Linked DNA regions of Homo sapiens: region 1 is linked to region 2. Evidence: fine-mapped expression QTL. A gene starts in region 2. The other region holds a variant in brackets. All regions are shown on one strand. Distances are between the middles of the regions.

Region 1 (2,904 bases), 270 kb after region 2:
TTCTCTTATTCCATTTAGTTTTTCAATTCATACAAAACCATATCCAGGCCATCACCAGTAATTCTACACGACAAATGTTTCTTCTAGCAACCCCACGATATCACCCCTTACCACAAAATCTTCCTTCAGCTTAATCTCTCCCACTCTAGGTTCCCACGCCGCCCCTAATCCCGCTCGAAGCAGCCCTGAGAAACATCACCCATTATCTCTCCATACCACCCCCCAAAATTTTCGCCGCCCCAACACTTTACCCCATTTCATTTTATTTTTCTTATTAATATAAGAAGACAGGAAAATCAGGCCTCTGAGCCCAAGCTAAGCCATCATATCCCCTGTGACCTGCACGTATAAATCCAGATGGCCTGAGGTAACTGAAGAATGACAAAAGAAGTGAAAATGGCCTGTTCCTGCCTTAACTAATAACATTACCTTCTGAAATTCCTTTTCCTGGCTCATCCTGGCTCAAAAGCTCCCCCACTGAGCACCTTGTGACCCCCACCCCTGCCCACCAGAGAACAACCCCCCTTGGACTGTAATTTTCCTTTACCTACCCAAATCTTATAAAACCCCGCTCTCCCTTCACTGACTCTCTCTTCACTGACCACCCCTCTCTCCCTTCACTGACTCTCTTTTCGGACTCAGCCCGCCTGCACCCAGGTGATTAAAAGCGTTATTGCTCACACAAAACCTGGTGGTCTCTTCACACGGACTCAAGTGAAACTGACCTCAAGTGATCCGCCCACCTCAGCCTCCCAAATTGCTGGAATTACAGGTGTGCGCCCCTGCGGCCAATTTTATACGTTTTAGAGGGATGGAAGTTACAGGCATACGTCAATCAATACGTGTAAAGTGTACATTTGTTCACTCAGGAATCATGGAACAATTTGGGGTGTGGGGCAGGGGGACTTCCAGATCATAGGTAAATTCCAAGATTTTCTGATTGGAAATTGGTCGAAAGAGTAAAGTTATGATCTAAAGACCTGGAATCAACAGAAAGGCGTGTCTGGTTTAAAAATAAGAGGTTGTGGCCTTTTACCTTGTTGCACTTCTGAGAGCAAGATGGGTCACCAGCAGCTGTACTAGAGCCACCAGTGAATATTCGGCCAGGGTTTTCATTCTTGTCACATCGGCCCAAATCGGCATGGTCTGATCTGTAAATATGCCCTCAATATGTACTGCCAGTGTTTCCGTCAGTACAGGAAAGATATCGGTTTCATTAAGTTGCACTAACTGACCTTCCTTGAAAGGTTTATCCAACGCATGTACCCAGTGAAAAACCATGATAGTGGCCGGGCACGGTGGCTCACGCCTG[A/T]AATCCCAGCACTTTGGGAGGCCAAGGTGGGCAGATCACAAGGTCAGCAGATCGAGACCATCCTGGCCAACATGGTGAAACCTCGTCTCTACTAAAAATACAAAAATTAGCTGGGCGTGGTGGCATATGCCTGTAATCCCAGCTACTCAGGAGGCTGAGGCACGAGAATCACTTGAACCCGGGAGGTGGAGTTTGCAGTGAGCTGAGATAGCGCCACTGCACTCCAGCCTGGCAACAGAGCAAGACTCCGTCAAAAACAAACAAACAAACAAAAAAAACCCCAAAAAACCATGATAGCTCTTTGCACATAAAATAAACATTTTTTAAAAAGATAAGGGGTTGTGGAGACCACCTGTTTTTTTTTGACAGAGTCTCGCTCTGTTGCCCAGGCTGGAGTACAGTGGCGCAATCTTGGTTCACCGCAACCTCCACCTCCCGGGTTCAAGTGATTCTCCTGCTTCAGCCTCCCGAGTAGCTGGGACTACAGGTGCACACCACCACACCTGGCTAATTTTTTGTATTTTTAGTAGAGACAGGGTTTTTCCATGTTAGCCAGGATGGTCTGGATCTCCTGACCTTGTGATCTGCCCACCTCGGCCTCCCAAAGTGCTGGGATTACAGGCATGAGCCAAGACCAAGGTTCTTGTTATGCAGATGAAGCCTCCAGGTAGCAGGCTTCAGAGAGAATAGATGGTAAGTGTTTCTCATCAGACTTAAAAAGGTGCCAGACTCTTAGTTATATCTCTCCTGAATCAGGAGAAGACCTGGAAAGGGAAGGGGACTCTCTACACAGTGTAGATTTTCCCTACAAGAGACAGATTTGCAGGGCTGTTTCAAAATATGTCAAAGAAAAATTTATTTTGGGGTAAAATACTTCTGTTTCTTTCAGGACCTGCTATCTGTCATGTGATGCTGTACTTCAGTCAGGTTGGAATTTGGTATCTTATTGCTACAAAGAGTCTGTTTTGTCAGCCTTAAGATCTCTGTGTTGATGTTAATGCTGGTCAGTTGTGCCTGAATTCCAAAGAGATGAGGGCAGAATGAGGCATGTCCAACACTCCTTCCCATCATGGCCTGAACTAGTTTTGCAGGTTTACTTTGGAATGCCCTTGGCGAGAAGGAGTCCGCTCAGTAGGTTGGGGGGCTTAGAATTTTCTTTTTGGTTTACAGGTGCAAAGCTTGTGATTTAGCCAGGAGATTTCCTGCCCCTCCCAAGGGGGCAGATTTTGCTTCAACCCTCCCTCACCATGTAATGAGGGGCTGGTCCTATCCCTCCCCCAGAAATACATGGCCTTACTTGTACCCTTACTTCCACCAGGAGTGAACCTTTGCCTGTCCTCAGGGGATGGGAAGGATTCCTGCCCCTTCCCCTGAGGCTTAAGTCCTTCTGCTTCTTGTGAGACAAGGTTCTGGGAGGTAGGAGGGGGTTCATGCCTGAGAACCACTGAGGGAGCCTCTTTCTTGTCTCATTGTACCTCCAATCTTTCTCATGAGCACCAAGAGGTGGAAAAGAGATTGCGAGTGAACTTGGGGTCTGCTAGATCCTGATGCACCCAGGGGGATTCTAAGTTGTCATGCTGGCCCACTCCTGG
Region 2 (2,904 bases):
ACTTAGCCAAGAAGGAAGGAAATTGTTTGGGATGGGTGAGGGGAGTCTGAAAAGGGAAGGGAAGTGGCTCAGAGCAGTGGCTTGAGGGGAGAGGAGGAGAGGTGGATGGTGGGAAGGAGGTGCAGTGGAGATCAGGGTTGGACATGAGGATGGAGGAGGCACTCACCGGAGCCTCGGACATGAGCACTGGGTGCAGGTTTGGCTCAGACTTGACGTGTTTGCTGTAGGTGTGATCCAGGATGGCTCGGAAGCACTCCCAGTCCTCGACTGGGGCCAGAAGAGCAGCGTGCAGAGACGCAAGAAGGCAGGCAGGGGACAGGGACAGGAAGAAAAGGAGGGAGAAAGGCCAAGCCCAAAGGAGGGTCAGTGAGTCCAGCTCCAGGGGAACGCCCCCCTTCCCAGAAACCTGGTGGGCCCCTGGGAAGGGAACCCAGCGAGAAGAACCCTGGCAGCCAGAAGAACCCTGGGGCTGCAAGGAAGACTCCGCGGGGAGTGGGGGCTGCTATGACCCAGATTGTGGGGAGCGGGCTCCTTTTCTGTCAGGAGGTGATGGGTGGGGGCCCCTTACTCATGCCATTCTTGAGGGGCGACATGACCTCCGCTCCATCCCGAGGCACGTGCAGGGCATTGGTGTCGATGTGGAAGATCTTCCCTTTCTTCTCTTTGTCCCCCTCCAGCTCCAGCCCGCCCCCCTCCTCCGCGGCCAGCAGCCCCACTGTGGTGGGGAAGTCAGCCTGGTGGGGAAGGGTTGGGGGAGTATTGGCAGGGAGAGAGGTCACCCTCTTGCCCCTGTCCAGCCCCACAGCAGGGTCCTCAGACCGCCCCTGGGTTTATTCCCATATTCCCGCTCAGCAGAGCTTCTGGGCGATCTGGGAGAGCCCTGGGTCACTGGAAAGCCTGAAGAAGGGTCCGAAGCCCCTAGGATTTGGAGAGGAGACTGGAAGGCTCACCTTGGGACAGTCCTCCCCAGCGTACCCAGCGCGGACTGAGAAGGAGCCAATGTCAAAGACCAGCGCCCCCACCTCATCTGTGCGGGGAGACAGGCCTGTAAGGGGACCTCCCCCGAACTCTCTCCCGCTAGGTAGCTCCGAGAGAAAGTCAGGGCAGAGCCACAGTCTCGCCACTTTCAACACCAGTCTGGGGCCGGTGGGAGCTGGGCCTGGAGTCCGAGGTCCTGGGACTGGGGGTGGGGGCATCACACCGCCAGGGTCCCTTCTTGCCCAATGGCCTTGCTCAGGGCACCCTCCCGACGGGAAAGGAAGGGGCCCGGGGCCAGGTGGAGGTGGGTTGCAAGGTAGGGCCCTGTGCGCGCGGGGCGTCTGGGGAGGACCGAGCGCAGGGGTGGCGGGAGACCCGAGCCTGAGACTCGACCCGCTCGTGCGCGGAGGTGACAGGCCCCGGGGTGCCCAGAGCTCGGATGGATGGCGCGGGTTTGGAACGCAGGGCTGCGGGAGCCGGGGGCCCGAGGCTCGCTCACCTCCGCCGTAGACGCCCCCGCTCATAGTGCCCGCTGCGCTGCTAGCGGCCCGTGGGCGGTGGCGGGATCAGCACCGAGGCGGCCGGACAGCTCCCGGGATCCCTGGCGGGGCGGGACTCTCAGCGGCCAATTGGGAGGCCGGATCCCCCGCTCCAACGGCGCCGCCGATTGGCTGCCAGGCGAGACAATGACCGACCGGGGGCAGCTGCTTTAAAGGGGAAGATACACTCTATTAAGCGGCCAGGAGGAGATGGGGCAGGGGGCACCTAGCAGGGACTTAGAGACCGTCGCTAAGGAACTGGCGGCAGAGAGGAGAGCAGGGAAGAGGCGGAGACCAGGACTCTGCAGGACGACTGATGAGGTCCCTATCCCCTTGCTTTTTATTTTTATTTTTATTTTTATGGTAGAGACGGAGGTCTTGTGATGTTGCCCAGGCTGGTCTCGAACTCCTGAGCTCAAGCGATCCTCCTCAGCCTCCCAAGTAGCTGGGATTACAGGCAGGTGCCAGCACGCCTGGATTAAAAAAAAATTTTTTATAGAGACGGGGTCTTGCTCTTTTGCCCAGGTTGATCTCGAAGTCCTGGCCTCAAGCGATCCTCCCACCTCAGCCTCTCGAAATGCCAGAATTACAGGCGTGAGCCACTGCGCCCGACCTCTACCCCCTTACTTTTTAAAGCAGGATTGGGGAGAGAGGTCCAGTTCCCAGAAGGGTTATCTATCTTCAGGCTGCTCTGAGCCCGGTTCTGCCACACCCAGGCCTAAATGGAATCACCAAGGTCTAAATGGAATCACCGGGAGAGGGAGGGAAGGGAAGATTGAGAGAGGGACCAAAGGGGGTGTGTCTCCATCTCTCTCTGTTTTTACCTTTTTTTTTTTTTTAAGAGACTGGGTCTTGCTACCTTGCCCAGGCTGGTCTTGAACTCCTGGCCTCAAAGTCCCAAAGTGCTGGGATTAAAAGCATGAGCCACCGTGTCCAACTTCCCTCCTTTGTCTTTCGTTGGCCCCTTTTTTCCTTGCCTTGCTTTCCCCCCCACCCCCCGCAGTACCTAGGCCTTATACATGTGTACACATGCTTACACATGTGTACATACGTTCACACACAGGCATTCAGCCCATCTGGCTTTAGCTTCCTTTCTCCATCTGTCTCTCTTCAGCGCCTGTTCTCCTGAGGAGGCATTTATCAACAAGAGGGTTTTTGTTTCTTTTCTTTTTGAGTTAGGGTCTTCCGTCACCCAGGCTGGAGTGCAGTGGCACACTTATAGCTCACTGTAACCTTGAACTCCTGGGTTCAAGTGATCCTCTCGCCTCAGCCTCCTGAGTAGCTGGGACTTACAGGTGCACACCACCACACCTGGCTTTTTTTTTTTTTTTTTTTTTTTTAAGAAAAAACTATGTTGCCCAGTCTGGTCTCGAACTCCTGGCCTCAA

Alleles and levels. Alleles are on the strand shown, and positions count from the first base shown. SD is a standard deviation of normalised expression in the study named.
In carriers of allele T in region 1, the expression in cerebellum of the gene that starts at base 1,596 in region 2 tends to be higher than with A alone (large effect, 1.1 SD a copy in GTEx).

The links. PIP is the estimated chance that this variant, and not a neighbour inherited with it, causes the effect. A credible set is the group of variants that fine-mapping cannot tell apart.
Region 1: its variant is the best candidate, but not a certain one, in a credible set for the expression of ACTL6B in cerebellum (GTEx, PIP 0.82).

The regions. Positions count from the first base shown.
Region 1 is chr7:100,927,311-100,930,214 of GRCh38, forward strand. It overlaps the pseudogene RPS29P15. Among named protein-coding and RNA genes, the nearest start is that of MUC3A, 21 kb to the right of the region's middle. RefSeq lists enhancers at 171-1,128, 1,129-2,085. The variant A/T (reference allele first, on the strand shown) is at 1,313.
Region 2 is chr7:100,654,853-100,657,756 of GRCh38, forward strand. ACTL6B (actin like 6B) reads right to left here and starts at 1,596. Exons shown (of 14, transcript NM_016188.5): 1 at 1,478-1,596; 2 at 951-1,027; 3 at 569-734; 4 at 167-267. The coding sequence starts at 1,502. It overlaps LOC105375429 (a long non-coding RNA gene), which reads left to right and starts at 1,709. Exons shown (of 3, transcript NR_133946.1): 1 at 1,709-1,838.